Linked DNA regions of Homo sapiens. The protein of the gene in region 1 interacts with the protein of each later gene in a biochemical or structural test. Each region holds a gene or a part of one and is shown in the gene's direction. Other genes may lie near its edges. The genes, in order: GRIP1, PDGFRB, AKAP10, TJP1, KCNV1, PRKCA and CFTR.

Region 1 (3,500 bases):
TATATGAAGTTAAGCTTTACAAATTCAACTTAGTGTAACATTCCTACTACTTGGCTAGAGACATCATCCATCCATCCATTCTTCTGATTATCTATCTACCCATCCATTCATCCTCCCATCCCTCTTGTCATTCTTTTATTTATCCACCCATCCATCCTTCTTTTCTTTCTTCCTCCCTTCCTCCCTTCCTTTCTTTCTTCTTTCCTTCCTTTCTTTTTTATATCCATCCTTTCATCCATTCATTCATCCATCCGTCTATTTATTCCTGGTAGGTGCTAAGATATTTATTGAATTAAGTAATTAATTTAAAAAACCTTTACTGAGAGACCTAGTATATGCTCGGCATTGTGCCAAGCACTGTGGAGGGGATAAAGATACATAAGATATTATCCCAAGTGACATGAAGCTTAAAATCTCATTGAAGAGATGAACATTACACATACATTAACACAATACAAGCTGAATGGAACAGGTGTGTTAAGAGGTGCCCTATGAATTTATTATTGGCTGTGGGGATATTATATGGAGGGAAATCTAAGTTTCAGTGATAAAATTAACAGGCTAACACCAAACTGAATATTCTTCATCTCTTTCTTTTGTCTCTTTGCTTATTTGTTTTATTTGTTTTGTTTTCTAAAATTTGTTCTTTGACAGACTCTGTGGCAACAGCATCCGGGCCACTACTAGTCGAAGTTGCCAAAACTCCTGGTGCCAGCCTTGGGGTTGCCCTAACTACCTCGATGTGCTGTAACAAACAAGTCATTGTCATAGACAAAATCAAATCTGCAAGTATTGCAGACAGGTAAGTATTGTAGAAAGTGCCTACTTTTCCGCCAGGCGCAGTGGCTCACGCCTGTAATCCCAACACTTTGGGAGGCCGAGGCGGGTGAATCACCTGAGGTCAGGAGTTCGAGACCAGCTTGGCCAACATGGTGAAACCCCATCTCTACTAAAAATACAAGAAATTAGCCAGTCATGGTGGCAGGTGCCTGTAATCCCAGCTACTCGGGAGGCTGAGGCATGAGAATCACTTAAACTCGCGAGGCAGAGGTTGCAGTGAGCTGAACCATTGCACTCCAGCCTGGGCAACAAGAGTGAAACTCCATCTCAAAAAAAAAAAAAGAAAGAAAGAAAGAAAGAAAGTGCCCCTTTACAAAATTGCATGTGTGCAATTTTAAATATATATACATACATATGTACACACACTTGTAATACACATATACACATGCATATACACATACACACACACACACACACAGTTCTCTTGCCAGTTTATACAGGTTTCACACACAGAAGCAAGTTACTGTTACAGGGCTTAAAAATTCACCTATGTGTCAGCCACCCCATGATGTCACTTCACGTCATCCAGATGTTTGGTGTGGCCTTTAGCAATAGAAAAAAAAATCAAGCAACTAAGCAAGTTTTCTTACTGTGTCCTAGGGCACTAGCCTGTTCTTAATGTAGGGTAGCTGAGTAGATCTTTCTTAAACCCCATGCAGAGCAGTGATGGGTTTTCCTGAATTGTTGACAATTAAATCCTGCTACCATAAAATCTGATTTCTTTGTTTCTTAAATAAATAAAACAATACTTTTTAAAATATTTTTTACAATACTTTTAAAAAGTCCTATACTCTCATAGCATGTTAATCTTAGGATTTTACAACCTTCGAGGGTGTCTTAAAACATCATTCGCTTCAATGCCACAATAAAAATGAAATTTCATGTTTCTAATTAATATTTTATACTCGTAAGGTAAAAGGGGAAGATAAAAAAAGACTACCTTTCCATCTAATTAATTATTTTACAGCTCCTGGTAAGAAAAACCTCATCTCCCATAGCTAAAGCACTCCAAGTGCAAAAAATGTGGAATTATGTTTTTAGTTGGAAGATATGACTTGAAATGCTTTTGTCTTGAGACGTAGACTATTCACACTGGGAATTTATAGATATACTGCACCTGAATGACCAGTCTCCCCTGTATGTTTCCAGCCCTCTTCTCCACGTGCCCCTCAACCTGCCTTTCCACCTCCAGCCATGGTGCAGTGAACTGCAGCAACCCCCCGTAGTGGTCAGTCTACATCTCCATTGTGGTCTTACCCAACATTCAGTCCTTATCAGTGACAGCCATTGATCCAGGGGTGTTGTGCAGTTCAATGGCACAGGATGCTTTAATTTTCTCCCTCTGTTTTTTCCCATTCCACAGGGGGTAACCAGTTTAAGGAGCTGTTCACTTGACTGGTATGTGGGGATGCTGACGACTGCGCTAGCTTTTCTTAACTCATCCAGTAGCCAGCTCTTGAGTTCAGCAAGATGTAGCAGCTAGCCCCTTCCCTGCCCCCATCTTTCCCCTTGACTCACCATGCAGGCCTGGTTTTATTACTCACTTGACTCCTGCATAATTTCTACCATTATCAAGAGCTTTTATACTAATACATGTTCAACTCCAGAATAACATAATAATAAAGAACTGGTGATCTTGGAGTTTGTGTGAGGATTCCAAGGAAGTATTACTGAAATCTCCCCAAGTTATTCTTCTTTACACATAAAATAGACCCTATTCCAATTCTGAGAGTCATGTTTGAGATTCTGAAGATTTACCCACTCATGTTTATAGATAGAAAAGCCTAGAACAAAAAAACACAGACAAAAGTCCAGGGGAAACATTTTCCTGTTTTTCCCTTTCCTCTTGCTCGCTTTCCCTCAACTTTCCACACAAGCACTCCAAAATAAGATTTTTTTTTTAAAGAAAGACAAGAGAAAACATTTCGTTGAATTTTTCTCTATTTTCCACAAGGTTTTACTTCCTTGTTCATATTCAAGGTACTTAAAATTTGGCAGATGGTGTTTCCTATAACACTCAAACTTTTCTTTTCTTTTATTTTAAGTAAATGAAAAACTGTGAAATTTTAACTATGAAGGACATGAAAGTCAGATTCCAAAGAGGAAGGCACTGCCTCTTACCGAGTATTTCTCCTTTCCGTAGATGTGGCGCATTGCATGTGGGAGATCACATCCTCTCCATCGATGGAACCAGCATGGAGTACTGTACACTTGCAGAAGCAACCCAGTTCCTGGCCAACACCACTGACCAGGTCAAGCTTGAGATCCTTCCCCATCATCAGACCCGGCTGGCCCTAAAGGGGCCCGACCATGGTGAGATGGTCCACCTGGATCAAGCTCTTTCTCTGGCCCTCACAGTGTTGCTCCCTCTAGCAGAGTTAGACAGCAGAAAGACACTGGGTCTCATTCTGCCTTTTTTTTTTTTTTTTTTTTTTGAGATGGAGTCTCACTCTGTCCCCCAGACTGGAATGCAGTAGCATGATCTCGGTTGACTCCAACCTCTGCCTCCTGGGTTCAAGCCATTCTCCTACCTCAGCCTCCCGAGTAGCTGGGATTACAGGTGACCGCCACCATGCCCAGCTAATTTTTGTATTTTTAATAGAGACAGGGTTTCACCATGTTGGTCAGACTCATCATTTCTTTTCAAAACAAGGTTATGT
Region 2 (3,500 bases), on another chromosome or scaffold:
AAGAGCCCTGCATTTCCATTTTGTGCTTGCCCCACAAATTATGTAGCTTGTCCTGCCAGGGAGTTCAGGCTGAGTTTGGGACGGCTTCATCCCCAACACTGGCCTTGCAGCCTCCACTGTCCCCATCCTAATCCACAGCCTCCCACTAAATGCCAGCCTGCTGGTGTCATCCTCCTGCATGGAGGCCCCCTCCCCACAGTGCCTGGAGTTACAGCATTGCCCTGCCAAGCCAGCAGCTACTACCCGCCATCACTATCAACACCTTGAAAAGTTGGTGGTCCAGAGAAAATCCTCACACAGCACCGCAGACCTTTCCTGAAGTCTCCCTGCCTCCTTCCCTGGCCTCCTGCTGCCTCCTTCCCAGGCCATCACCTACCTGTTTGCTGAAGAGCCCCAGTTTCTAGCCCAACAGATCTCTCCCTGCCATTTCTCCCAGATGCCTTTCATCTCTCACAGAGCCCTGGCCATACCTTTCCCTGGCATCATCTGCCAAAAAACTCAAGAAACCCTGGAGGCCTAGCTCAAGGCCACCTCCCTCAGGAAGCCATACCCGCTCTCCCCACTGGAGTAATCATATACTGTTGTTAGTCACCATTTACTGGGCACCTATGATGTGCCAAGTGCTGTGCGTCATCATCTCTGGCCCTCCCAGAAATGGAAAAGGAGGTCTCCCATGCCATTTCCCAGGAAATTGGGACTCAGATAAGTTAAACTCAGAGAACTGGGGCTTGGACCCAGGAATAAGTGGCTTCCAGCTGGAACCACTGCTCCCAGCCTGGCGGGGCTCCCATCCCTGCCCTGGATGGCATCAGGCGCAGCCTGTTGGCTTCAGAGTGCCATATGTCTGTTCTGCCCTCACCAGCTCATCTCCATCACCTCCCTGGAAGGAAAGAGTCACCATTGCCTATCCATGCCAGTTCCCTAGCCTAGTGAATCCTGTGTTATTAGGAGGCAGCCGAGGGCCCAGGACTGAAGAGCTGACCCTACAGAGCCATTTAATCTCTCATATCGTGTAAGCGTTTACTGAGCACCTACTGTAGGCCTAATTCCATATTAGGAAGTTGAAGAGAGTCCAGATCGTTGTTAGGTAGGTATCCTGATTTGTGGGAAGTCATATTAAAGGACTAAGACAAAAGTTCAGGAAAGAAGTAATTGACAGACAGTGGTGATTAGATGGGTCTGGCCTTAGGTTGGCCACCGAATCGCCGAGTGTGCTAGGATGAGACACTCCTCACTGAGCCTCAGGACACTGAAAAGGGCTGTTGCTACTGATTGTACCAATAATCAGCAGCTACCTCTTCCTGAGGAGCGTCTTTTGGGAGAGGCCTTCTTGCACCGTCTCATTTATCACATGCATCACTTTGCTGAGAAGCCTAGTCCCGTGGAGTCTTGGCTGTGCGCGCAAGGCCGAGTGAGTGAGTGACTTCTTCTCCCTTGAGTGAATGAATAATAATAATGTGGCCACCAACTTTGCAGAGGGCTGTGTGCCAGGCCCTATTCTAAGCATTTTGCTTGTGTTAACTCCTTCAATAGCCCTGACAACCCAGTGATGAGCCCCAATCTACAGATGAGAAAACTGAGGCACAGAGGGGTGGTTAAGTGAATGACCGAAGACAGGGGTGGGAGGACAGATGCTGAGACAGTGAGAGGGTCAGTGAAACATGGGGGTTCTCTGCCCTCCTGCTCTGCCGCCCAGGAGGGCTCTGAGGGGAATCTCAATGTTTGGTAATTGGCACTGATAAGTGAAGGGTTTACTCATTAGCTAGCTACCCCTCCCCTATTTGCAGGCCCTGGGCCTGTGGGGGAAGGCTGTGTGCTGGTGGGTCAGTGTGAATGGCCCAAGGCCTGCCTGTCCCCTGCCCACTTGGCTCTGAGAACCCATTCTATTTGCGGCCCCCACCCCAGCCCATGGCTGCTCCGGGCTGGCAGCAGCCCGGGGAACAGAAGGTTTGCTTGTCTGCGCCTGCCGCACCCCCCTCCTCAGTCTCAGCCTGGGACCCCTCTCAGGGGCTCCTTTGGCTGCCAAGGGCCTGGCACTCCCTGTTGCCATGGCACCGGCCGGAGATGAGGCTCTGGGGGGTGGGGATGGGGAGGGCAGCAGCAGGATGGTGGAGGCCTGGAACTCTGCAGCTACAGAGGCCCTGGCCCTCTGCAAACAGTGGAAGGGGGTGCTGGGGCCCCCACAGGGGCAGGCCTGGACCCTGTGCACAGCAGGCCTGTGGCAGAGCCGGCCACACACCTGGGCTGATTGCCTGGATGCTGTATCCCGCAGGAGCACTGCCCCTGCCAGACCCTGGCTTTCCTAAGCAAAAACTCTCTCCTCAGCCTTGTGTGCTCACCCTCAGCCTCTGCAGCGAAATTGTGGAGTTCTATCCCTAGTCCTGGGTTCTATCCCTAGCTCGACTTTAAAATTATTGGTGACCCGGGGCAGGCCTCCCGCATACACTGCCCCTCAGTCAGAGCAGAGGCGGGACCCAGATCCCTGAGGATCTTCTCATCCCTGAGATCCTGGATTCCGTATGGACGCCATTAGAGGGAGAACGTTTCTCTGTGGACAGATGGACAGAACTGTTTCTGGTCAGGAGACAGACAGTCTGGCATGACGGGCAAGAATTCAGGTTTTGGCAGTTGTGGTGATGCGCACCTGTAGTCCCAGCTACTCAGGAGGCTGAGGCGGGAGGATCACTTGAGCCCAGGAGTTTGAGGCTATAGTGAGCTGTGAGCTATGATCATGCCACCACACCACTGTACTCCAGCGTGGGCAACAGAGCGAGACCCTGTCTCTAAAAAAAAGAAAGAATATAGGCTTTGGAGTCAGGCCGGCCTGAGTTTGCATTCCCGTTCCTTTGCATCTTACTTATTGTGTGACCTTGGGAAAGTTACCAAAAGTCTCTGAGACTCATCATTCTCCTCTGTAAAATGGGAATAATGAGTGTACCCCCCTCACAGGGTGGTCGTGAGGATGAAACAAAATCTCCAGATCATCTCATTTAGCAGAGTGCCTGGCTCTAAATTAGTAGGGACTTTTGTTTGTTTCCAGATTGGGGGGGATCAGAACAATAACTAGAAAGATGTCCTGTATTTGGGGAGAGGGTGGTTGGTGGATAGAAGCAAGACCAATAAGCAGAGAATACAGTGAGATAAACTGTACTCAGTGTAATTAACAATTCTCAATAGTCTGCCCTCTGAAGATTCTAAGCTGGCTAAGAATGAAATGGGCCACAGGTGAGGTGGTGAGAGCCCTGTCATGGGAGGTGTGCAATTGCAGAGAAGGTGGGGGAGATGTGAATAGAGGGAATGTACTAAGACTGTAGGGCTCTGTGAAAAATGGAGTGACTGTTTCCCACTCAAACTGTCAGCTTCAGCTTTACCCAGCTCAAAAGACAGCGTGAAAGAGTGAAAGGAGAAGTTGGGACAAAGAAGGCGAAAAGATAAGGCTGACGACTTTATTTTTTAATTTATTTTTTTGAGACGGAGTTTCACTCTTGTTGCCCAGGCTG
Region 3 (3,500 bases), on another chromosome or scaffold:
CCATGTTGGCCAGGCTGGTCTTGAACTCCTGACCTCAAGTGTTCCACCCAACTTGGCCTCCCAAAGTGCTAGGATTACAGGCGTGAGCCACCGTGCTCAGCCATTTGCGTGATTTTTAAAGATGTGCAGAATAATGCCATTAAAAAAAATACACATACATGTATATATATACACGTTTGGCTGGGTGTGGTGGCTCACACCTGTAATCCCAGCACTTTGGGAGGCTGAGGCAGGAGGATCACTTGAGCCCAGGTGTACAAGACTAGCCTGGGCGAGATAGCAAGACCCCATCTCAACAACAGAAAGGATAATTAGGTATGGTGGCATGAGAGGATCACTTGAGCCCAGGAGTTCGAGTGTTATCAGGCCACTGCACTCTAGCCTGGACAACAAAGCAAGACCGTGTCTCAAAAAAATAAAAATAAAAAGTATTTGTATGTGGTCATAGTCAAAAAACGTACATGGAAGGAAAATGTCTTTATTTATTTATTTATTTTTTTTTTTTTAAGACAGAGTCTTGCTCTGTCACCCAGGCTGGGGTACAGTGGTGTAATCTCAGCTCACCGCAATCTCGGCCTCCCGGGTTCAAGCGATTCTTCTGCCTCAGCCTTCTAAGTAGCTGGGACTACAGGTACCCGCCACCACACCCTGCTAATTCTTGTGTTTTCAGTAGAGACAGGGTTTCACCATGTTGGCAAGGCTGGTCTCGAACTCCTGACCTTAAGTGAGCCACCCGCCTTGGCCTCCCAAAGTCCTGGGATTACAGGTGTGAGCCACTGCGCTTGGCCAGGAAATATCTAATTTAGTAAGTATTTATATCTGGGAAAGGAAGGGTCAGGTGGTGATTCATAGGAACTCTAAAGTCTATGTATAATACTTAGGGGGACAGAAGGAAATAAAGCAAAATGCTGATATTTGATTGTTGAGTTGTGTATATGTTAGAAGTATAACATAGGAGATCTGATTGATAGTAGGAGAATGTTTTTAGGTGGTAAAAGTGGAACCGTGGTGGTTTGTTTTGGCAGTAGAATCAGTTGGTCATAGTTTGTATGTGGAAGGTAATAAACAGACCATGTTAAGGATGACTTCCGGAATTTTGGTCTGAGTAGTGGGTGGATGACAGTGTCATTCATGAGGGAAGATGAAGACTGAGGTAGGAACAGGTTTGGGAGAAGATGACATGTTCCCTTTTAGACAAGTGGAATTATGGAAGATGGCAGGTAGGTGGTTAGCTATATGAATTTGAGATAAAAGATTTAGGATGGAGATATAAATTTAGGAGTAACAGCGTATCTATGGTATTGTAAGCCTTAAGAATGGGTAGGATCAGCCAGGAAATACAGATGTATATGCAGAAGAGAGGAGTCAAGGAAGCCAAGACAAGTTAATGTTTAAAGTGAGTGATGTAGTCCATGGGCAGATGCTGCTGAGAGGGCTGCAAACACCAGTGACCCTACAACATTTTTAAATGTCGTCTTCCTGACAGCAGTGATCAGTACCTGCAACGATCTTATTTATTTTTTTCATGTTAGTCTCCACACACTTGAATGTAGACTTTTTGAAGGCAAAATCATTGCCTTTTCTGAGCTGGGAGCATGTCTGGCACATACCAAGCACTCAACAGTTGATGTATTGACTTCATCCAGATACTCTGAGGGCGAGTTATTTCCTGCTACTAGCCTTTCACCTTTCAATGTTTAAGAGCACAAATACAGAGATGGGCACGTTTTGGCATTTCTTATTTTGATAACCTTTTCCTGGTAAGATTTTTTAATGTTGAAAAAAAAAAACAAGAAAAGAGGGTTAAAAATAGTCTTATGTCAGATCCTGTGATAGAATTCACACTTGGCTTAAGCTGCTGGGCACCTTCCTATCTTGGATGTCATATTAGCTTATCTACAGCAGAATTTTTACTGTTTTATGTAGTAAGGAAGCAATTATATGATTATTTTACAGACAAATTATTCTTTATCTTTTATTTTTTTAGACGGAGTCTCTCTTTGTCTCCCAGGCTGGAGTACAGTGTCGCGATCTCGGCTCACTGCAACCTCCGCCTCCTGGGTTCAAGCAATTCTCTGCCTCAGCCTCCCAAGTAGCTGGGCTTACAGGTGTCCGCCACCACACCCAGCTCATTGTTTTGTATTTTTAGTAGAGATGGGGTTTCACCATGTTGGCCAGGCTGGTCTTGAGCTACTGACCTCAGGTGATCCACCCGCCTTGGCATCCCAAAGTGCTGGAATTACAGGCGTGAGCCACCGTGCCTGGCCCAGACAAATTATTATACTCTGAGTGTTAGAGGCTTAGGATGTTTTCACTTGATGCTATGGGAGGAATAAGTAATAAGATATGATACACAACCAAAGACCTTTCTTCACTATGCTTCTAGTAGCTAGTACTATGGATGACACATGGTAATAATATTGGTTAGCATTTGTCCTCAATTTACTGTGCTAGTTACTCTTCTAAGCCCCTTACAGGTATATATTTTTTTTCATCAATAATCCTCTAAGGTAGTTTTTATTATTGACCTAATTTTATAAATCAAGAAAATTAAGACCCAGAGAAGTAAGTAACTTGTCCAAGATCACATGGCTTATAAGTGGTAGAGCCAGAATTTGACCCCAGATGTTGTGACTACATTGTCTCTCCATAAGCAGGTTCAACTCTTTTGACTGGATGCTGTTCCAAGGTCACTTCCTTAGAGAAGCCTTTGCTGACAACTACCCTCCTGTGCCCTCCTCCAAGGCTGTCCATTGTTCTAGAACTTTGAATACTCATCTTAGAATAAAGCTGGTCTAATTTTTACAGTGTTATAGAATGGATCTCTGACTGCAAAAGTTGGTCATAATTATCTTTTTATGTTCTAGTGAAAGGCAAAGAACAAGAGAAGACCTCAGATGTGAAGTCCATTAAAGGTAAGTTCTGCCCTTGGCAGTCCACTGCATTAAAAAGTGATGTGCTTTGCATTTGTGAGTTCTTTAATCCTGTTATACTCTCTCTTTTGGCATTAATCATTTCTGCCTTATTTTATAATTACTTATGATTTTGATTTATTTCCCTCTTTAACCTGTATAATGCTTTAACATCTAGCATATAATAAGTAGGCTTTTTTTTTTTTTTTTTTTTTGGAGACGGAGTCTTGCTCTGTTACCCAGGCTGGAGTGCAGTGGCGCGATCTTGGCTCACTGCAAGCTCTGTCTCCCGGGTTCACACCATTCTCCTGCCTCAGCCTCCCCAGCAGCTGGGACTACAGGTGCACGGCGCCACGCCTGGCTAATTTTTTGTATTTTTTAGTAGAGACAGAGTTTCACCATGTTAGCCAGTATGGTCTCGATCTCCTGACCTTGTGATCCGCCCGCCTCGGCCTCCCAAAGTGCTGGGATTACAAGCGTGAGCCACCGCACCCGGCCGTAAGTAGGCTTTTTTTACCTTAATTTTATTTTTTTGAGATGGAGTCTTGCTCTTATCCCCAGGCTGGAGTGCAGTGGTGCCATCTCGGC
Region 4 (3,500 bases), on another chromosome or scaffold:
TCTTAGTCAATAAGAAAACCTTTTACTGTGTTAGTAGAGGAGAGGTGTGAATAGGAGGAGTTTGTCCTTAAATAAAAACTATCAGCTCTCCTAAACAGTGATTCTAGGGGGAAAAAAAGTAGAACTTTATTTCTGACAAATCTGACAAATCTTTATACCTTTAGCAGACTTTCGGAAAGATATTCTCCAAGCAGATGATTAAATAAACATTTTTAAGCTCTGACATTTGTATTATGTTTTTTAGTTTTAAAAGTGCTTTTCGACATGTGAACTCTTAGTTTCCAGTGGTGAGGAAACAGACTCAGATTGGTTAAGATAACTAAATCATTTAGTGAGCATGCATAAGGTGCTTGCCCTTGTGCTAAGCACATCAGCATAATGAGGTGACACTGTTGTTGTTCTGCATTGTAGAGAGAGACACTGAGGCTGAGAGGGGCAAGTAGCTTACAAGACTTAGAGCTGGAAGAGAAACCTGGCCTGCTGCTCCTCAGCCTGAGCTTTTTCCCATGGCCTCATTGCACTGCCAATAAGTGACAGATTAGATTTGAATACAGCTCTTCTGATTTTGTTTTTTGACTGAATATATGTTTGCACTTAGGATAAAGAAGAGAACTGTCTAATATGAATTTACTTAATGACTTGCTTTCTTCCTCATCTGCTTTGTATGCCTTCTAGAACTTTAGACCATATAGAGTTATTTGTTCATATGAGAATCATTGAGATCCTGGACTGAGTTCTTAAAAATCCCTTTGAAAGTTCTTAAAGTCTATCATTTACTGTTCTTGACCTTGGTATATGTACTTCTCAAGATGTTCACTGTCTCGGTTACATTGCCCTTTGTCTTTCTGATTAACTACTTCTAACCTGCTGTTCCCTAATCATGTAATCGTTTAGCTTATTATATTGTGTTAAAGGACTCATGAGCCAGAAGGGGGCTGCCTTTTGAGTATACTCTGTGAGGACATGGGATTTGAAATATCCATTTTAACTGTTGGGACTGCTCAGATCCTCAGTAATCACAGCAGTTAGTAATTATTGACCTTTTAGTCAAGATAAGACTTACATATTCTACTTCCTTCATAACATTAATATTTAAAAAGGTGTTCCGTTTGTCATTCATTATCTGTTAGGATCCCAGAACCTCAAAAACCTCAACTGAAGCCACCTGAAGATATTGTTCGGTCCAATCATTATGACCCTGAAGAAGATGAAGAATATTATCGAAAACAGCTGTCATACTTTGACCGAAGAAGTTTTGAGAATAAGCCTCCTGCACACATTGCCGCCAGCCATCTCTCCGAGCCTGCAAAGCCAGCGCATTCTCAGAATCAATCAAATTTTTCTAGTTATTCTTCAAAGTAAGCTATTTCACCTGGCTTTTAAAAATAGGATGCAGCATATTAATCCCGTGCAGTTCAATATATTTTGAAGAAAAATAATTTAAGTGTAATATATGATTTCTGTAGGCTCTAGTGGTTCAGCATTGTACATACTTTTTAGTTCTGGGATGTGTGTTTTGTTTTTAAAGTCTGCTATTAGATGTACATAGTTTTTGCATTCACAAAGATGCTAACATCACAGGGTTTTGACGGAAGACAGTGTCAACCACAAGGACCCTCATCGATAGGTAATCATCAGTCTTCACTTCTGTACACACACCTAATGATGTCATGCTGGTTCTTTTTCTTTTCTGTTTTTATTTTTTAAATATAAATACAGATGTGAGGAGGATCCTGTTTGAGGGAAATACTGAAGAGGTTTTTTGTTTTTTGTTTTTGTAAGATTTCTGATCCAGTTTTACAGGTGAGGGAAAATGACAGGGCAGAGCTGGGACTGAACCCCAAGTTTCTTGACTCCCAGTCATCTTTTCCCTGTGCTTGCTGCTCCCCTCCGTTTACTCATCCCTGGGTTTCGTGTTGGTTTGTTCTCCTTTCTTGTGCCTGCGTGGGTTTGTGTCTCCTACTGGTTCTGTGTCTCTGGTTGAACCCTGACTGATAAGAGAATTTGGTACTGATAGTTGTGTCTAAGCCCACACGGGCACACAGGTAGATTCATACCTCAATAGAACAAAACCCACAAGAACAAAAACAGATGTGGATTTGTCAAAAGAAATTCATTTACACAGTTACAGGGGCTGGCTAAGCAAGTCCTATTTCAGAGGGCAGTTGGTCAGGAAGGGAAGATTTTGAGCTACTGGGGAGTGTGAGATCAGGGAAGGCCTAAATTCTCATTCAGAGGGCTCTGCTGATTAGGCCAGGCCCTCCCAAGACCATCTCCCCTCAACTGACTTGGGGACATTACACCTGAAAAATCCCTTCATGGCAGTACCTAGCCAGATTGACATATTAGAATTCATCACACATAGTATTGTGTCTATATTAAAAGCACCTAGATTTTTCCTTACTTAGTTGCGTGGGCTTGGGATTATCTTGGGAAATGACCTATTTGTCATTTACTATTGAGTGTAAATTGTTTTAGAACATACTTTAAAACCACTAACATTAAAACCTAATTTTAATTACCACTGCTTTTTTCTAAGACATCCTTTGTAGTGAAGACTTTTTTCACTGTCCTATATTTAAGGCTTTATGTTTACAGAAGAAAGCAGTTTATGAGAATCCAAATGCAAACTGAGAGTGCTGCAGTGGGGGTTGTATTAAATGCAAAACGTGTCTTGTACTAGTGTTGTGAACCACCCCTTAGCACAACACTAGAAAGGGGTTGTGGCATCTAGATGGTGTCTGGACTGAAGTGAGCTAGCACAATATAAACCCACACAGGTGCACAGCTGGGTTCATACCTCAACAGAACAAAACCCACAAGAACAAAAACAGATGTGGATTTGTCATTAGGAATTCATTTACATTTACAGTGTTACAGGAATTCATTTACACAGTTATCACAGTAACATCTAAATGGTGACTAGCCTAAAGTGAGCTAGGCACTGAGCCATAGGAGCTCACCTTTGGTAAGGCAGAAGGGTGTACCCTTTAGTTATTATTTTTACTAAACACCGTTAAACACATTCATTCCTGTCAGAAGAAGGCTCAGGTGTTTAGTTTAAAGATATCTCTTATTTATCGTTTTACATATTTGGTAAATAGAATACAACCTTAAAAAGATTATATGGCCAGGCGCAGTGGCTCGTGCCTGTAATCCCAGCACTTTGGGAGACCAAGGCAGGCTGATCATGAGGTCAGGAGATCGAGACCATCCTGGCTAACACGATGAAACCCCATCTCTACTAAAAATACAAAAAAATCAGCGGGGCGTGGTGGCGGGCTCCTATAGTCCCAGCTACTCGGGAGACTGAGGCAGGAGAATGGCGTGAACCCGGGAGACAGAGCTTGCAGTGAGCCGAGATCGTGCCACTGGACTCCAGCTTGGGCAACAGAGTGAGACTCTGTCTCAAAAAAAAAAAAAAAAAAAAAGGCTGGGCGCAGTGGCTCACGCCTGTACTCCCAGCACTTTGGGAGGCCGAGGTGGGTGGATCATGAGGT
Region 5 (4,062 bases), on another chromosome or scaffold:
AGTTAACCAAATGGATGGCTGTCAAAAGAACCATGCTTATAAATATTATAGTTTAAAAAAGTTTATTGAAGTCCCCCATTTATTCTCAGAGGATTACTATAAGCTCCACAACAACAGAGATCTTGTCTATTCTTCATTGATACATCGCAAGTACCTTGAATAGTGCCAGTATATAGTGAATGCTCAGTAAACTTTTGTTGAAAGAGTGATGAAAATACCTCATTAAACTCCTGTCCTTCATTAGAAACTTGTAAACAAAGAAAATAAAAACAATCACACTGATTTATCAACAAAAAATAATGTTTCTAGAATTTTGTTTATGAAGGCAGCCTCTGACATGTAGTCCTGGGTTTGATTTGAACTGTGTGGCCCTTTGCAAATCACTTAATTTCCCTGTGCCTCACTTTTCCTTTCTGTAAAATGGATATATGCTACCTCATAGTGTTGTCATTATGATTAAATAAGGTACTGCATGAATAAAGAGCCTACAAATTTCCTGGCATAAAGTAAGCACCCATTAAATGTTGGGTGTTTTCATTAAAGCTTGAAATTTCACTGAGGAAGGCACTGAGACCCTCAAAGTAAATGATAGCTAGACGTCCCACAGCCAGTTGGCAAAGCTAGAACTAAACAGTCACGTTTCTGTCCAATCTATGAAAAAGCTTATTCTACTACATCAGGCTGCCTGCTTATGTCTTTATATATACTACCTAATACGTGTGTGTGTGTATGCTTTCTAATATATACTTATATATGTAAGTGTATCCATAATATATGCTTTCCAATATGTATTCTATATATACATACTAGAAAACAACGAAGATGAGTGTGGTTCACTCTCTCTGGCAAAGACTTGAAAAATGCATGATTCTGAGATGCCTGCTGAAAATGTGAAAACCTTGAACCATGCCAAATGAAGCAGTTAATATAACTGCCCTAACCTCAAGTTTAGCACACTGATCCAGTTGGAAATTTTGCTCTGGAGCATTTACAAAAGCACAGATCCGGGGAAACGGGAATCAAATGCAGTAATTCTGCAAGTGTATTCAGGATGAATGTAATATTGAGTGTCACCGGGCACCTCACTACCCCCCGCCTCCACCCCCGCCGTCTCACCTCCCTCCCTTAGATCCTGCCACTCCCCTCTGCTGGTGCTGGAAGCACTGGGCGAGTGGCTCTCAGAGCTAGAGCGGGCGGGGCGGACACGCTTAGCGTAAGCGCAGGGGCCAGGAGCCCGGAGGGAGGTGGAGGCGGGGCAAGGCAAGGCAGCAGGCGCTGGGTAGAGCTCAGCTGGAACACAGTTTCCCTCCTGGACCGGTCGAGTCAGACCTCACGTGTAGACTAAGAGGATCAAAAGAAGAGTACGTTACCTGCGGCGCCGGTTGTGCGCAGACCAGATGTGCCGGGAGCTGCAGGTGAGTCACTTGCTCTTCCCTCCCACCCCCACCTCCTCACCCCGAGTCCAACAGGTTGGCTGGAGCGCAGCTTCCAGGGGCCCCGTGGGTACACTTCTAGTCTCACCTGGGCGCTGGCCTCGGCTTCTCCCTTTACCGAGGGAGGCCGTCGTTACTATTTAAATTCCTGCCCCAGCCCACGCTTGTTCTATTCCTTGTCTTTTTGCCTTTCCTTCTAAAATGAGAGCTCCGCTGTGCTCAGAACACCTGCTCTCCGGGAAACTTGTAGGGACAGAAATGGTTAAAAGGAAGGGTGCCTCAAAAAAGTGCCTCAACACGAGGTGGACCCTCGACAGGGTGGGAGCTGACAGTGACACTCCTAGTTCTTAGTGACCCACTGGGTCTTCAATAAAAAGTCATCATTAATTATTCTTGTTTCTCAACCAGGAGGTCAGAACCTAAGGGAGACGGCGGAAGAAAATGGAGCGTCAGTGATCATCAGACTAGAATGAGAGTGAATTGGGAGAAAATGGTGCGGCCCCCTCACCCAGAGAACCCTCCCCCACCTGCTCACACCCCCAGCGAACACCCCGGGGGAGGCCTATGAAGCAGCAGTAAAAGAAAAGGGAGGAATATAAATTCTCAAGTTGGAAGGGACCCGGTTACCACTTCCTTTGCTTTCTGAACTTTTTGTTTTGGTCTCCTGCGGGCAGGAGTGAGTCTCGCCATCCCCCTTGCTTGCTTGCTTGCTTGCGTTCAGCTAAGAGTCATCTTCTCTCCTCTTCCTCCTCCTCCGCCCCACATCTCCCTCCTTCCTCCCTTCCCCAACCCCTCCACCCACCAAGTAGCGAGTCATTCAATCTGTACACCTCCTGGGCTGGGAATCGCAATTGCGAAGTTGGGAGGCGGGGTGACAACGTTTGGGAAGGGCCAGGGCGACCGGCAGTGTGCACAGGGACTGTGTCGGGCTTGGACCTCACCTGATCCTCTCTCTTAGCGCGACCCTTCCTCTGCTCCCTGTCTCCTCTTTCTGCCACTTGTGCGCTGCTTCCGCGCACTCCCGGCTCCCTAGCGGCAGGAGGAGGAAGGCGCACAGCGGGTGGAGAGGGTGCGCCAAGGAGAGGTAACCCCTTCGGGAGCCCGGGGAATCCCGGCCGCCACCAGGGGCCGTGCCACCGCCCTCGCGGGACCAAAGCTTCCGGCGTGTCCCCAACTTTGTGGCGCCCTCAGGCCGCGGCGACTGGGTTAGAGATGCCTTCCAGCGGCAGAGCGCTGCTGGACTCGCCGCTGGACAGCGGCTCCCTGACCTCCCTGGACTCTAGTGTCTTCTGCAGCGAGGGTGAAGGGGAGCCCTTGGCGCTCGGGGACTGCTTCACGGTCAACGTGGGCGGCAGCCGCTTCGTGCTCTCGCAGCAGGCGCTGTCCTGCTTCCCGCACACGCGCCTTGGCAAGCTGGCCGTGGTGGTGGCTTCCTACCGCCGCCCCGGGGCCCTGGCCGCCGTGCCCAGCCCTCTGGAGCTTTGCGACGATGCCAACCCCGTGGACAACGAGTACTTCTTCGACCGCAGCTCGCAGGCGTTCCGATATGTCCTGCACTACTACCGCACCGGCCGCCTGCATGTCATGGAGCAGCTGTGCGCGCTCTCCTTCCTGCAGGAGATCCAGTACTGGGGCATCGATGAGCTCAGCATCGATTCCTGCTGCAGGGACAGGTACCCCGGAGGCACGCGGCGGCTGGGCGGGGAGGCGGGCGCGGCAGAGAAAGAGAGGAAGGCACAGGTAGATTTGAGGCTTTACACAAGCTTCGCTGGAGCCAGGCCTAGCAATAAGGTGTGGCCACTTCTGGGCTGACAGGTGGGGTGGGGGTGGGGGACTGGAAAGCATCAACGCCAACTTTTGAATAGAACTTTTTGAATCTCTTTGTTCCCTTTTTTGAGTATGCTAATTTAACGTATAAGGCAAGGGACTTCAGGCCCACAATAAATATTTGGTGACTGAATAAATGAATCAGAAACGCCATGCTCCAAAAATGCATGCATAGGGATAAAAGATTTGGCACGCAGCATTATCATTTATCAAACCTAGAACACTGACTTTGAAAAACTTGAATGGAGAATTGTTTTAAATATAGAAGATAAAAGGTTGGTCCCTTGATTGAATGATTGTGGAACTCTGAGGTTACCTTGCTATTACTACCATTTCTTCATGAATACATTTCCTTTACACACACACAAAAAAGTTCCACCTGCCAAACATCTGTTCTTACCAGAAAATGGGTAATAAAATGTATTAATCCAAAGTAGCTTTACTATGTATACACTTCTACTAAGAAAGTGTCATTTTAAAAATTATAATCCAGGCCGGTCGTGGTGGCTCACGCCTGTAATCCCAGCACTTTGGGAGGCCGAGGCGGGTGGATCACTTGAGGCCAAGAGTTCGAGACCCCCCCTGGACAACATGGTGAAACCCTGTCTCTACTAAAAATACAAAAATTACCCGGGGGTGCTGGTGGTGCGTACCTGTAATCCCAGCTACTCAGGAGGCTGGGGCAGAAGAATCGCTTGAACCTGGGAAGCGGAGGCTACAGTAAGCCGAGATCACTCCGCTGCACTCCAGCCTGGGCGACAGAGCAAGACTCCGTCTCAAAAAAAAAAAAAAAAGGAAAAAT
Region 6 (3,500 bases), on another chromosome or scaffold:
CAACTGCCTTATAAAAACACTAGCAGCACGTGCTGGCCTCTCGCCTCGGCTGGGTTCTGTGCAAAACCCCATACATTTCACCTTCCTGACAGCCTTGGGCAGGAGGTGTGATTGTTCTCCCAGTGTTACAGATGAGCAAACTTGGTGGACCCCACTTCACAGTTAATCCAGAGCTATTCTCTGTTAGAGACCCAAGGATGCCTGGTTAGTTTGAAATGTGTGCTAGCTCAGAGTTAATTCATATTGGCCCTGTGGTGCTAGCAGCAGGTCCAAGGGCAGTAATTGGCAGCATCTTGAAAATCATTCTTAGGATCCTTAGTGAAACTCCCAGCTCTTCCTGCTTCAGAGTCACCCTGGGCTCCCGGGGACTTCAACACGCCACTACCCTTGTGGGTGGCTGACAAGGTGAAGAGAACACTCCTTCCCCACTTTTGGGGTCAGGCTACCAAGCCGTGCTGCCTAAGCGGCTGTGTGTCTCAGCGACCCCAGTGCAACAGTTCTGCCTGGAGTGGACCCTGGAGGAGAGGAACAGCCGAGACAGCAGGCCTCTCCCTGCCTCCCCAGGGCGCCATGCAAACATCCTCCAGCCTGAGACCACCCTGCAAATAAGCTCCAGTCAGTCACCCAGCCTGCCCGCTGGCCAGCTCTGTCTAGGTGTGCTAAATCCTAGCTGGGCCAGGTGCAAATCTCCCAGCCTTGCCGCCACACCTACCTCATATCGCTTGAAGCTTAATTTAGGGGCTGGGGTTGCTGGAGCAGCCCAGTAGGAAGGCAAGGATAACACAGTTTTTACTTCACTACAAATATTGCGGCAAAAAAACAGATGTGGGGCAGTAACTCACCCCGTCGCTTGGTCCAGGGGTAACTGCCTGCAGCCCCAGCCGACATCCTGGCCTTTCAACACGGAGCTGTGACTGACGGCCCTGCGTGCGTGGCTTCCGTGCTCTCAGCTCCGCTTGCTCGGTGAGGTGGACGTGAGGGGACAGGGGCTGTCCCCTTGTTGCTGCCTCATTGCCAGCCGTGCAATTCCCACCCAGGGCTTCTGTTCGGGGTGTTTCAGGGTTTACAGTTGGGTAACTCGTTGTTGTCTGCTGTGCCTGGCTTTTCAATCCAATAGGCCTGCAAGTCCTCCGAGATTCCTCCTCCTAACCAGCCCGGAGTTCCCCAGGGCCGTGCCCCTCCCCAGAGAGGGCCCTCGGAGAGCTGCTCCCGCATTGTCATGTTGACTGACCTTTCCTTCTTTTTGTCTTTTCTCCACAGTGTGGCAAAGGAGCAGAGAACTTTGACAAGTTCTTCACACGAGGACAGCCCGTCTTAACACCACCTGATCAGCTGGTTATTGCTAACATAGACCAGTCTGATTTTGAAGGGTTCTCGTATGTCAACCCCCAGTTTGTGCACCCCATCTTACAGAGTGCAGTATGAAACTCACCAGCGAGAACAAACACCTCCCCAGCCCCCAGCCCTCCCCGCAGTGGGAAGTGAATCCTTAACCCTAAAATTTTAAGGCCACGGCCTTGTGTCTGATTCCATATGGAGGCCTGAAAATTGTAGGGTTATTAGTCCAAATGTGATCAACTGTTCAGGGTCTCTCTCTTACAACCAAGAACATTATCTTAGTGGAAGATGGTACGTCATGCTCAGTGTCCAGTTTAATTCTGTAGAAGTTACGTCTGGCTCTAGGTTAACCCTTCCTAGAAAGCAAGCAGACTGTTGCCCCATTTTGGGTACAATTTGATATACTTTCCATACCCTCCATCTGTGGATTTTTCAGCATTGGAATCCCCCAACCAGAGATGTTAAAGTGAGCCTGTCCCAGGAAACATCTCCACCCAAGACGTCTTTGGAATCCAAGAACAGGAAGCCAAGAGAGTGAGCAGGGAGGGATTGGGGGTGGGGGAGGCCTCAAAATACCGACTGCGTCCATTCTCTGCCTCCATGGAAACAGCCCCTAGAATCTGAAAGGCCGGGATAAACCTAATCACTGTTCCCAAACATTGACAAATCCTAACCCAACCATGGTCCAGCAGTTACCAGTTTAAACAAAAAAACCTCAGATGAGTGTTGGGTGAATCTGTCATCTGGTACCCTCCTTGGTTGATAACTGTCTTGATACTTTTCATTCTTTGTAAGAGGCCAAATCGTCTAAGGACGTTGCTGAACAAGCGTGTGAAATCATTTCAGATCAAGGATAAGCCAGTGTGTACATATGTTCATTTTAATCTCTGGGAGATTATTTTTCCATCCAGGGTGCCATCAGTAATCATGCCACTACTCACCAGTGTTGTTCACCAACACCCACCCCCACACACACCAACATTTTGCTGCCTACCTTGTTATCCTTCTCAAGAAGCTGAAGTGTACGCCCTCTCCCCTTTTGTGCTTATTTATTTAATAGGCTGCAGTGTCGCTTATGAAAGTACGATGTACAGTAACTTAATGGAAGTGCTGACTCTAGCATCAGCCTCTACCGATTGATTTTCCTCCCTTCTCTAGCCCTGGATGTCCACTTAGGGATAAAAAGAATATGGTTTTGGTTCCCATTTCTAGTTCACGTTGAATGACAGGCCTGGAGCTGTAGAATCAGGAAACCCGGATGCCTAACAGCTCAAAGATGTTTTGTTAATAGAAGGATTTTAATACGTTTTGCAAATGCATCATGCAATGAATTTTGCATGTTTATAATAAACCTTAATAACAAGTGAATCTATATTATTGATATAATCGTATCAAGTATAAAGAGAGTATTATAATAATTTTATAAGACACAATTGTGCTCTATTTGTGCAGGTTCTTGTTTCTAATCCTCTTTTCTAATTAAGTTTTAGCTGAATCCCTTGCTTCTGTGCTTTCCCTCCCTGCACATGGGCACTGTATCAGATAGATTACTTTTTAAATGTAGATAAAATTTCAAAAATGAATGGCTAGTTTACGTGATAGATTAGGCTCTTACTACATATGTGTGTGTATATATATGTATTTGATTCTACCTGCAAACAAATTTTTATTGGTGAGGACTATTTTTGAGCTGACACTCCCTCTTAGTTTCTTCATGTCACCTTTCGTCCTGGTTCCTCCGCCACTCTTCCTCTTGGGGACAACAGGAAGTGTCTGATTCCAGTCTGCCTAGTACGTTGGTACACACGTGGCATTGCCGCAGCACCTGGGCTGACCTTTGTGTGTGCGTGTGTGTGTGTTTCCTTCTTCCCTTCAGCCTGTGACTGTTGCTGACTCCAGGGGTGGGAGGGATGGGGAGACTCCCCTCTTGCTGTGTGTACTGGACACGCAGGAAGCATGCTGTCTTGCTGCCTCTGCAACGACCTGTCGTTTGCTCCAGCATGCACAAACTTCGTGAGACCAACACAGCCGTGCCCTGCAGGCACCAGCACGTGCTTTTCAGAGGCTGCGGACTTTCTTCCAGCCATTGTGGCATTGGCCTTTCCAGTCTTGGGAGGAGCGCGCTGCTTTGGTGAGACACCCCCATGCAAGGTCCTCAGAGT
Region 7 (3,500 bases), on another chromosome or scaffold:
TTTTGCACTACTGAAATTTTATACCTGTTGATTAGTATCTCCCCATTTCCCTCTCTCCCCTGTCCTGTTACCCATGGTTCTGTTCTTTGCTTCTTTGAGTTTGAGTATTTTGATACCTCATGTAATCTTCATTCTATTTTCTAACTTTGACAATGTTCTGACAAATTTGCTTTCCGGATTGGAGCACTGTATAGTGAAAATTGAAAATCTTGGTTATTTTCTACAGATTCCCACTATTTTACCTTGAGCAGACACTTATCTTGAAGGGTCTCAGATTTGTCACTTGTAGAATGGGGAATATAAACCTGATAATGGTCCCTTTCAGTTCTAAAGTTATATCAGTTGAAAATACATGTGTCACTTATGGTAACGGGTAGAGAACTGGCTCACTGAACAGCATATGGATATTATAAAGTGGTTTTTTTTAATCCTTTCTGCAGACAGTTACTTTATACTTTATTCAAATGGATTATTGTGAAGTACATGTTAGCGGACTTTGTACCTTTTAAAAATGTATGTATTTGGTGTAATGTAGAAATATAGAAATTTATTAAGTATGATTTATTTCAATGTTAAGCATGAGAAAATATGCTCCGAAAGGTTAGATAGCTTGCCTAAATGACAAGCTTGTATTTCAAGCAGAACTTTCTGAATCAAAAGACTCCAAGACGAATGCCCAGCTTTCAAAAACTGTCTAACCAAAATAAATCCTAAGATTCACCTTCATACTAAAATTATTTAAAAATAGTTTATTTTAAATTAATATTCACTTAAAATGTATTTATCATGCAATACTTTAAAGTGTCTGGGAAATGAAAATATCCAAAGATCAAAGAACACCATGTTTTCAAACTTCAAAAATGTTATCAGTGACCTAAACAATTTTTAAAATTTTCATAGAGCCTATGAAAAATGTACTTGCAAATGGCTACTTTCTGACTAGGAATAGAATGGGGAGAGTATTTAGTCCAACAATGATAGACTGGATTAAGAAAATGTGGCACATATACACCATGGAACACTATGCAGCCATAAAAAATGATGAGTTCATGTCCTTTGTAGGGACATGGATGAAATTGGAAAACATCATTCTCAGTAAACTATCGCAAGAACAAAAAACCAAACACCGCATATTCTCACTCATAGGTGGGAATTGAACAATGAGATCACATGGACACAGGAAGGGGAATATCACACTCTGGGGACTGTTGTGGGGTGGGGGGAGGGGGGAGGGATAGCACTGGGAGATATACCTAATGCTAGATGACGAGTTAGTGGGTGCAGTGCACCAGCATGGCACATGTATACATATGTAACTAACCTGCACAATGTGCACATGTACCCTAAAACTTAAAGTATAATAAAAAAAATAAAAAAAAGTTTGAGGTGTTTAAAGTATGCAAAAAAAAAAAAAGAAATAAATCACTGACACACTTTGTCCACTTTGCAATGTGAAAATGTTTACTCACCAACATGTTTTCTTTGATCTTACAGTTGTTATTAATTGTGATTGGAGCTATAGCAGTTGTCGCAGTTTTACAACCCTACATCTTTGTTGCAACAGTGCCAGTGATAGTGGCTTTTATTATGTTGAGAGCATATTTCCTCCAAACCTCACAGCAACTCAAACAACTGGAATCTGAAGGTATGACAGTGAATGTGCGATACTCATCTTGTAAAAAAGCTATAAGAGCTATTTGAGATTCTTTATTGTTAATCTACTTAAAAAAAATTCTGCTTTTAAACTTTTACATCATATAACAATAATTTTTTTCTACATGCATGTGTATATAAAAGGAAACTATATTACAAAGTACACATGGATTTTTTTTCTTAATTAATGACCATGTGACTTCATTTTGGTTTTAAAATAGGTATATAGAATCTTACCACAGTTGGTGTACAGGACATTCATTTATAATAAACTTATATCAGTCAAATTAAACAAGGATAGTGCTGCTATTACTAAAGGTTTCTCTGGGTTCCCAAATGATACTTGACCAAATTTGTCCCTTTGGCTTGTTGTCTTCAGACACCCTTTCTTCATGTGTTGGAGCTGCCATTTCGTGTGCCCCCAAACTCTACTTGAGCTGTTAGGGAATCACATTTTGCAGTGACAGCCTTAGTGTGGGTGCATTTTCAGGCAATACTTTTTCAGTATATTTCTGCTTTGTAGATTATTAGCTAAATCAAGTCACATAAACTTCCTTAATTTAGATACTTGAAAAAATTGTCTTAAAAGAAAATTTTTTTAGTAAGAATTAATTTAGAATTAGCCAGAAAACTCCCAGTGGTAGCCAAGAAAGAGGAATAAATATTGGTGGTAATTTTTTAAGTTCCCATCTCTGGTAGCCAAGTAAAAAAAGAGGGTAACTCATTAATAAAATAACAAATCATATCTATTCAAAGAATGGCACCAGTGTGAAAAAAAGCTTTTTAACCAATGACATTTGTGATATGATTATTCTAATTTAGTCTTTTTCAGGTACAAGATATTATGAAATTACATTTTGTGTTTATGTTATTTGCAATGTTTTCTATGGAAATATTTCACAGGCAGGAGTCCAATTTTCACTCATCTTGTTACAAGCTTAAAAGGACTATGGACACTTCGTGCCTTCGGACGGCAGCCTTACTTTGAAACTCTGTTCCACAAAGCTCTGAATTTACATACTGCCAACTGGTTCTTGTACCTGTCAACACTGCGCTGGTTCCAAATGAGAATAGAAATGATTTTTGTCATCTTCTTCATTGCTGTTACCTTCATTTCCATTTTAACAACAGGTACTATGAACTCATTAACTTTAGCTAAGCATTTAAGTAAAAAATTTTCAATGAATAAAATGCTGCATTCTATAGGTTATCAATTTTTGATATCTTTAGAGTTTAGTAATTAACAAATTTGTTGGTTTATTATTGAACAAGTGATTTCTTTGAATTTCCATTGTTTTATTGTTAAACAAATAATTTCCTTGAAATCGGATATATATATATATATGTATATATATATATATATATATATATATATACATATATATATATAGTATTATCCCTGTTTTCACAGTTTTAAAAACCGATGCACACAGATTGTCAGATAGCAATTCTGTGATTGAAGGGGAAATATGTCACCTCTTCATACTCATATTGGTGAAGGGTCCTAGCTTCAAAATTAATAGATTCCTAAAGAGGGGAAATGAAACATCCGCATTTACACACACACACACACACACACACACAGAGTTCCTCTTGTCGGTAAGTTTTGTTTTTTTTAAATCTCTACTAGATAAAATTTGTTATCTAATTGTGAGTTTTACACAAAGAAAAACTGTCACAGAAAAGAAAGACAGTGTCACATTTTTCAAAAGAAAAAGAAGAAAAGAAAGTGCCATGTTTTTCAAATACAAATGTTCTGGATTGATTTTAGGATCTTTAGTGAAAAACAAAGTATTTCATAATAAGTAAAATAAAAATCTATGTAGGTAAATTTGTTTCTCTAATTT

Evidence for each region.
Region 2: the proteins of GRIP1 (region 1) and PDGFRB interact in a test that uses a peptide from one of them, tested with the Homo sapiens proteins (one large-scale study listed by IntAct).
Region 3: the proteins of GRIP1 (region 1) and AKAP10 interact in a test that uses a peptide from one of them, tested with the Homo sapiens proteins (one large-scale study listed by IntAct).
Region 4: the proteins of GRIP1 (region 1) and TJP1 interact in a test that uses a peptide from one of them, tested with the Homo sapiens proteins (one large-scale study listed by IntAct).
Region 5: the proteins of GRIP1 (region 1) and KCNV1 interact in a test that uses a peptide from one of them, tested with the Homo sapiens proteins (one large-scale study listed by IntAct).
Region 6: the proteins of GRIP1 (region 1) and PRKCA interact in a test that uses a peptide from one of them, tested with the Homo sapiens proteins (one large-scale study listed by IntAct).
Region 7: the proteins of GRIP1 (region 1) and CFTR interact in a test that uses a peptide from one of them, tested with the Homo sapiens proteins (one large-scale study listed by IntAct).

The regions. Positions count from the first base shown.
Region 1 is NC_000012.12:66,462,577-66,466,076, reverse strand, and holds part of GRIP1 (glutamate receptor-interacting protein 1), read left to right. Parts: intron 1-654; coding exon 655-802; intron 803-2,983; coding exon 2,984-3,153; intron 3,154-3,500. UniProt on the Homo sapiens protein: May play a role as a localized scaffold for the assembly of a multiprotein signaling complex and as mediator of the trafficking of its binding partners at specific subcellular location in neurons.
Region 2 is NC_000005.10:150,145,846-150,149,345, reverse strand, and holds part of PDGFRB (platelet-derived growth factor receptor beta isoform 1 precursor), read left to right. Parts: intron 1-3,500. UniProt on the Homo sapiens protein: Tyrosine-protein kinase that acts as a cell-surface receptor for homodimeric PDGFB and PDGFD and for heterodimers formed by PDGFA and PDGFB, and plays an essential role in the regulation of embryonic development, cell proliferation, survival, differentiation, chemotaxis and migration.
Region 3 is NC_000017.11:19,967,829-19,971,328, reverse strand, and holds part of AKAP10 (A-kinase anchor protein 10, mitochondrial isoform 1 precursor), read left to right. Parts: intron 1-2,867; coding exon 2,868-2,915; intron 2,916-3,500. UniProt on the Homo sapiens protein: Differentially targeted protein that binds to type I and II regulatory subunits of protein kinase A and anchors them to the mitochondria or the plasma membrane.
Region 4 is NC_000015.10:29,714,469-29,717,968, reverse strand, and holds part of TJP1 (tight junction protein 1), read left to right. Parts: intron 1-1,130; coding exon 1,131-1,358; intron 1,359-3,500. UniProt on the Homo sapiens protein: TJP1, TJP2, and TJP3 are closely related scaffolding proteins that link tight junction (TJ) transmembrane proteins such as claudins, junctional adhesion molecules, and occludin to the actin cytoskeleton.
Region 5 is NC_000008.11:109,972,972-109,977,033, reverse strand, and holds the start of KCNV1 (potassium voltage-gated channel subfamily V member 1), read left to right. Parts: upstream 1-1,262; 5' UTR 1,263-1,415; intron 1,416-1,841; 5' UTR 1,842-2,645; coding exon 2,646-3,106; intron 3,107-4,062. UniProt on the Homo sapiens protein: Potassium channel subunit that does not form functional channels by itself. Modulates KCNB1 and KCNB2 channel activity by shifting the threshold for inactivation to more negative values and by slowing the rate of inactivation.
Region 6 is NC_000017.11:66,802,613-66,806,112, forward strand, and holds part of PRKCA (protein kinase C alpha type), read left to right. Parts: intron 1-1,260; coding exon 1,261-1,425; 3' UTR 1,426-3,500. UniProt on the Homo sapiens protein: Calcium-activated, phospholipid- and diacylglycerol (DAG)-dependent serine/threonine-protein kinase that is involved in positive and negative regulation of cell proliferation, apoptosis, differentiation, migration and adhesion, tumorigenesis, cardiac hypertrophy, angiogenesis, platelet function and inflammation, by directly phosphorylating targets such as RAF1, BCL2, CSPG4, TNNT2/CTNT, or activating signaling cascade involving MAPK1/3 (ERK1/2) and RAP1GAP.
Region 7 is NC_000007.14:117,609,025-117,612,524, forward strand, and holds part of CFTR (cystic fibrosis transmembrane conductance regulator), read left to right. Parts: intron 1-1,494; coding exon 1,495-1,645; intron 1,646-2,556; coding exon 2,557-2,784; intron 2,785-3,500. UniProt on the Homo sapiens protein: Epithelial ion channel that plays an important role in the regulation of epithelial ion and water transport and fluid homeostasis. Mediates the transport of chloride ions across the cell membrane.